Regions from separate parts of the Homo sapiens genome. Here region 1 is linked to region 2. The links come from fine-mapping of genetic effects on gene expression. A gene starts in region 2. The other region holds a variant in brackets. All regions are shown on one strand. Distances are from middle to middle. Region 1 overlaps MINK1 (misshapen like kinase 1). Region 2 holds the start of PLD2 (phospholipase D2).

Region 1 (2,906 bases), 52 kb after region 2:
GCTCAAGCCATTCTCATGCCTCAGCCTCCCGAGTAGCTGGAACTATAGGCACGCACCACCATGCCCAGCTAATTTTTTGTATTTTTAGTAGAGATGGGGTTTCACCATGTTGCCCCGTATGGTCTCAAACTCCTGAGCTCAGGCAATCCGCCAGCCTTGGCATCCCAAAGTGCTGCGATTATAGGGGTGAGCCACCGCGCCCAGCCAAGATGCTCTTTCTTACCACACACACACCCTCCTATTTCTTTTCTTATGCACACACACAGACACACACACAGCCTTTAGCTACTCCTAATTGAAGGGTGCCTAAGACACCACCCTTCTGTCAGAATACTTGCCCCTACTTCCAAATCTCTGCCAGTACTGTATCCTTGTGGAACTTAACTTAAATTGTTGGGGAGACCCCATCTGTCCTTTGTCTCTCAGGCCCTTATCCCTTCCCCTGTGGTGGCTTCAGAATATCTCCTACAGATGGGGTTTAGGGTTAGTAATCTGGTGGTACTGGGGCTAAGGGATAGGTTTTAAAGCTCCATTTGCATAGCAGTCACTATTTTAACACTTAGATTGTTGGTGTTTTGGGGTGTCTTTAAGGGAGCTGATGAATTTATGGGAGGCTAAATATCCCCTCCCCCACTGGGTATAGCCACTGCCTTTGCCCCCCTCTTCCTCTCTGTGTGGGCCTTCTGGATTACAGGAAGAGCTCAGGAAAACAGGCCTATTGTTTTCATCTGGGAGGGGGGAGGGCCTCCCAGGCCAGCTCAGGCTCACTGTCCTTTGAACTGGTACCCGATAAACAGAGGCTCCAAGACGCTGGCAGCCTTGTTCTTCCAAGGCAAGGGAGTTATTTGGCTTGAGACTTTATTCTGTTCTGCCAGCTCTTGTTGGTTCCCTGTTTATTTTTTTTTAATTTAAATTTAATTTTTTTTTTTTTTTGAGACGAGGTCTTGCTCTGTTGCCCAGGCTGGAGTGCAGTGGTGCAGTCTCGGCTCACTGCAACCTCCGCCTCCCAGTCTCAAGTGATTCTCATGCCTTACCCTCCTGAGTAGCTGGGATTACAGGCATGCACTACCATGCCCAGCTAATTTTTGTATTTGTAATAGAGATGGGGTTTCACCATGTTGGCCAGACTTGGTTCCCTCTTTAGACCACAAGTTCCCATTCTCTTTCCCTAGTGTCCTATGAAATTCTCTTCTCCCGCTTCCGCATCTGTTTTTCTCTATCACAGGTTTCTCAGAATCTTTCTGGCTGCTGTATAGTCAGTCCTGGTATGGTTAGTAACAGCAGGAAGCCTGCCTTTTTGGAAGTACAAGGAGCTAGGAAAGGAGGGGTCTCTCCCAGACTAGAGAGGTCTTCTCCCCTAGCCTCACAGCTAGCTGA[C/T]TCTGCCTTGTCCTCCCAACACCCGGGATTCCCCCCGGCCCCTCCCAACACCAGGCACCCGGGGCAGCCCCACCTCCTGCCCTGTTTCCTGTCAGGGGTAGGATGGCACCTTGCCTGGGTCTGGGAACAGCACTGGCTCTAGCAGCAGGACCTGCCGGGGCATATCTGAGTGAATAATCATTGCTGGGCTCGAAGCACAGGAGAGACCAGTCCTTCCTTGTCTCCACTGGGCTGTTTAGTGCTTCTTTCCCAAGGACTTCCATCCCTTCCCCAGGCTTTATGGTTCCAGTTCTTCTACCATTCTGGAAGCTCCCTAGAATCTCCTGGAATGCTTAATGGACCTTTCCAGCACCGAAATTCAAGAATTATGACTCATCGGTCAGCAGAAAAGTGAGGATACCTTTTCCTAACCTACCTGCTTCCCCTGCAGTTTCCTCACAATCTTACTCTTTATATTTTAGCATATGTAACTTCTCAGGATGTTAATTCTGTTCTCTCTGTGTTGGTGTCTGAGCACCCAGAAGGTAGAGCCAGGGGCACTTATAAACCAGGAGCATTATTTGACAGGCACTTAAGAAAGACACTGGCTACGTAATCCCAGCACTTTGGGAGGCTGAGGCGGATGGATCACATGAGGTCAGGAGTTCGAGACCAGCCTGGCCAACATGGTGAAACCCTGTCTCTACTAAAAATACAAAAATTAGCTGGGTGTGGTTGCACACGCCTGTAATCCCAGCTACCTGGGAGGCTGAGGCAGGAGAATCGCTTGAACTTGGGAGGCGGAGGTTGCAGTGAGCCTAGATTTTGCCATTGCACTCCAGCCTGGGTGACAAGAGCGAAACTCCATCTCAAAAAAAAAAAAAAAAAAAAAAAAAAAGATGCTGGCTAATATTGATAATAACAGTTTGCATTTGCTAAAGTACTTAAAAAAAAAACCTTTACCCCTCAAAGGGTTTCATCTACATGCAAAACCAACACCGTAGGAACTACTTTCCGCATGCGGAGCCGGGTACAGAGGGAAGGGGCGCGTCCGGGAACTACTTGCCGCATGCGGAGCGGGGTACAGAGGGAAGGGGCGCGTCCGGGAACTACTGGCCCCATGCGGAGCGGGGTACAGGGGGAAGGGTCGCGTCCGGGAACTACTTGCCGCATGCGGAGCGGGGTACAGAGGGAAGGGGCATGTCGTTAGAGGAGCTACTGTTAGTGGAATGAGGACGGGTAGCCAGAGTTCTCATCTGCCAGCTCCAGGCCACTTCCAAGAAATGTGACCCCCAAGCCTCTGGTGCTTGCCTCCTTCTGCTCATTCAGTCGTCCACCTCTTTCATTCTGGATTCCACCATGAGTCCAGGCCTCTCCTGCATTTCTAGATTTCCACGTGCTGATTGTGAGGGACTGACGGGGGTTTCACCTTCTCTCCTTTTCCTGGCCCCACAGCCTTGGCTCACGCTTCCTAGGCTCTGAGTTTCAGTTCGTGTCCCAGCCTCCCAACCGGACAGCGTTCTGGAAACAGTTTATGCATGAACTCTTGC
Region 2 (2,906 bases):
AGCCGAGATCACGCCACTGCAGTCCAGCATGGGCAACAAGAGCGAGACTCTGGCCGGGCGCGGTGGCTCACGCCTGTAATCCCAGTACTTTGGAAGGCCGAGGAGGGCGGATCACAAGGTCAAGAGATCGAGACCATCCTGGATAACACGGTGAGACCCCGTTTCTACTAAAAATACAAAAAAAATTAGCTGGGCGTGGTGGCGGACGCCTGTAGTCCCAGCTACTCAGGAGGCTGAGGCAGGAGAATGGCGTGAACCTGGGAGGCGGAGCTTGCAGTGAGCCGAGATCGCGCCACTGCACTCCAGCCTGGGCAACACAGCAAGACTCCATCTCAAAAAAAGAAAAAAAAAGAGCGAGACTCCGTCTCATAAAAATAAAAATAAAAATAAATAAAAAATAGCAAAAGACTGAATAGGCACTTTATAAAAGAAGACATACAAATGGCCAATCAGCACATGAAACATGGTCAATATCATTGATCTCCAGACAAATGCAAATCAAATTGCAATGATGTGCCCACAACACCCATTAAATGGCCAACGCTAAAGACTGACAATATCCAACGTTGGCCATGCCATGGAATAACTGGAACCACCATACACTGATTTTGGAAATCTAGAATGGAAAAACCATTTAGAAAAAAATCGTTTGGCAGTTTCTTATAAGTTAAACACACACTGATATGATCGAACAACTCCACTCCCTAGTTACCCAAGATAAAGGAAAACTATCCACGCAAACTTACAGGAATGTTTACAGGAGCTAAAACAATGGGCAAAACTAGAAACCCACATGTATATCAAAAGAGAAAAATAAATCTGCTTTTTAAAAAAGATTGAAATATCTTGTATTTTAATACCCGAAAAAATTTTATTTCCCCCTAGACTGCCAATTCCAGCTGAGCAGGCTCTCTAACCATCTTATTTACTACCATACTCTCAATTTCTGGCACGGAGTAAGCGCGCAATAAATGTTTGGTGAATGAATGAAAGAATGCCCGCTTTCATACACTAATGGGTTTGTAGCCACCACCCCTCAGGCCTTTTACGCCCTCATTCCTTCCAGGTACAAACGCTATCTGGGCTAGGCCAAATGTGGCTCGCAGCGGGTCCGGGAGCGGGGCACCTACCGGCAGCTCCCGCAGCGGAGGCGCGTCCCCCGGGCGCCGAGGCAGCGCCCGCGGCTGGAGGGGCCCGGGGCGGGCGCCGAGCCCGAGGGATGCGCGCAGCGCGGGGTGCCCCGGGAGGCAGCGGCCGGGCACGCTGGGACCGACGGCGCGGGACGCCCCGACGCCGGGCAGCACTTACCCGCCGCACCGAGAGAGCTACGCGGCCCCGCGGCCCTGCAGGGCACAGGGCGGCCCCCTGCCCGGGGCTCTCGGTGGCGCACTGGGCGGCGGGGCGGGCCGAGGGCAGCGGGGGCGGGACAGGACAGACGAGAATCCCGCGGAGGTGAGGCCGGGGGCCGCCCCGCCCCCGAGGGCAGGCCCTGAGCCCCGGCCCCGCCTCGGCCGGCCCCGCCTCGGCCGGGGCGTGGGCTCCGGCTGCAGCTCCGGTCTGCTCTCTTGGCTCCGGAACCCCCGCGGGCGCTGGCTCCGTCTGCCAGGGTGAGGGGGCCGGGAAGGGGCGCGCGGGGGTCCCGGGTCTCGGAAATCGGGCGGGGACGGAACGGGCTCGGGCTGCGGGGCCTCCAGACTCAGTCGCACGCTCAGATTTCGGGATTTCTACCCCCGGCTGGGATCGCGTAACTTCCTCATTCCCGCCTGGACCCCTGCCCCCGGCCCGCCTGGCCTGGCGTGAGCCCCGTAGCCGCGCGCTCTCCGGACCACCCAGGGCCGCTTCCCCGCGCAGCTGCTGCGCCGCCCCAGGTCGGAGCCTTCCGGGCCTGGCTGGGTGTTCCCCGGGGCTCTGGTTACGGGACGGGGCGGGGGGCGGGGGGCGGGACTGGGATTGTGGATGAAGGACTAAGGTAGGGGATGGGGGCTCGAAGGGGTCGGTGGGGCGTTGCAAACTGGTCAGGCGTCATCCGCGGGCGGTCAGGAGGCCGTGGGGGAAGAGGAGGATCTGGAAGAGATGGAGGACCTGCGGGAGTTAGGATGGGGGGCGGGTTCTGCAGGACAGCTCGCCTCCCTGAGGCTTCCCAATGTTCCTAGGATGACGGCGACCCCTGAGAGCCTCTTCCCCACTGGGGACGAACTGGACTCCAGCCAGCTCCAGATGGAGTCCGATGAGGTGGACACCCTGAAGGAGGGAGAGGACCCAGGTACACAGGGAAGATGGATGGCCCTCAGGGAGGAGAGGCGTTCGGGAGCCAGGGGGCTGGGGCCTGTTGTGGTCTACACTCCTCGACTTTCTTTCCTCCCAGCCGACCGGATGCACCCGTTTCTGGCCATCTATGAGCTTCAGTCTCTGAAAGTGCACCCCTTGGTGTTCGCACCTGGGGTCCCTGTCACAGCCCAGGTGGTGGGCACCGAAAGATATACCAGCGGATCCAAGGTGGCCAGACTGGCCCCAGGGAGGGGGAAAGGGAGGGCGGCCCGGAATGGATCCAAGGTGGCTGGGCTGGCCCCAGGGAAGGGGCAAAAGGAGGGCTGGCCAGAGTGGGGAGGCGGGGACCCACGCAGGGGACATCCATTCAGTTCCTCATACCCCTAGGTGGGAACCTGCACTCTGTATTCTGTCCGCTTGACTCACGGCGACTTTTCCTGGACAACCAAGAAGAAATACCGTCATTTTCAGGAGCTGCATCGGGACCTCCTGAGACACAAAGTCTTGATGAGTCTGCTCCCTCTGGCTCGGTGAGGGCGACCGGACTGCTTCCTGTAGAGGGCAGGTGCTCCCCACCCTCCTTTCTGTCTGTCTCACCCCGGGGCCACAACCTTTCCTCCCTGCAACTCTGGCCACTG

Evidence for each region.
Region 1: its variant is fine-mapped to the expression of PLD2 in whole blood (TOPMed, PIP above 0.99).

What each region holds. Positions count from the first base shown.
Region 1 is chr17:4,857,562-4,860,467 of GRCh38, forward strand. All of the region lies in intron 1 of MINK1 (misshapen like kinase 1), which reads left to right. Among named protein-coding and RNA genes, the nearest start is that of MINK1, 26 kb to the left of the region's middle. RefSeq lists a silencer at 2,293-2,587. The variant C/T (reference allele first, on the strand shown) is at 1,378.
Region 2 is chr17:4,805,619-4,808,524 of GRCh38, forward strand. It overlaps PLD2 (phospholipase D2), which reads left to right and starts at 1,534. Exons shown (of 25, transcript NM_002663.5): 1 at 1,534-1,607; 2 at 2,154-2,263; 3 at 2,366-2,496; 4 at 2,656-2,798. The coding sequence starts at 2,155. It also overlaps a transcript of C17orf114 not described here. RefSeq lists a silencer at 1,085-1,874 and an enhancer at 2,270-2,906.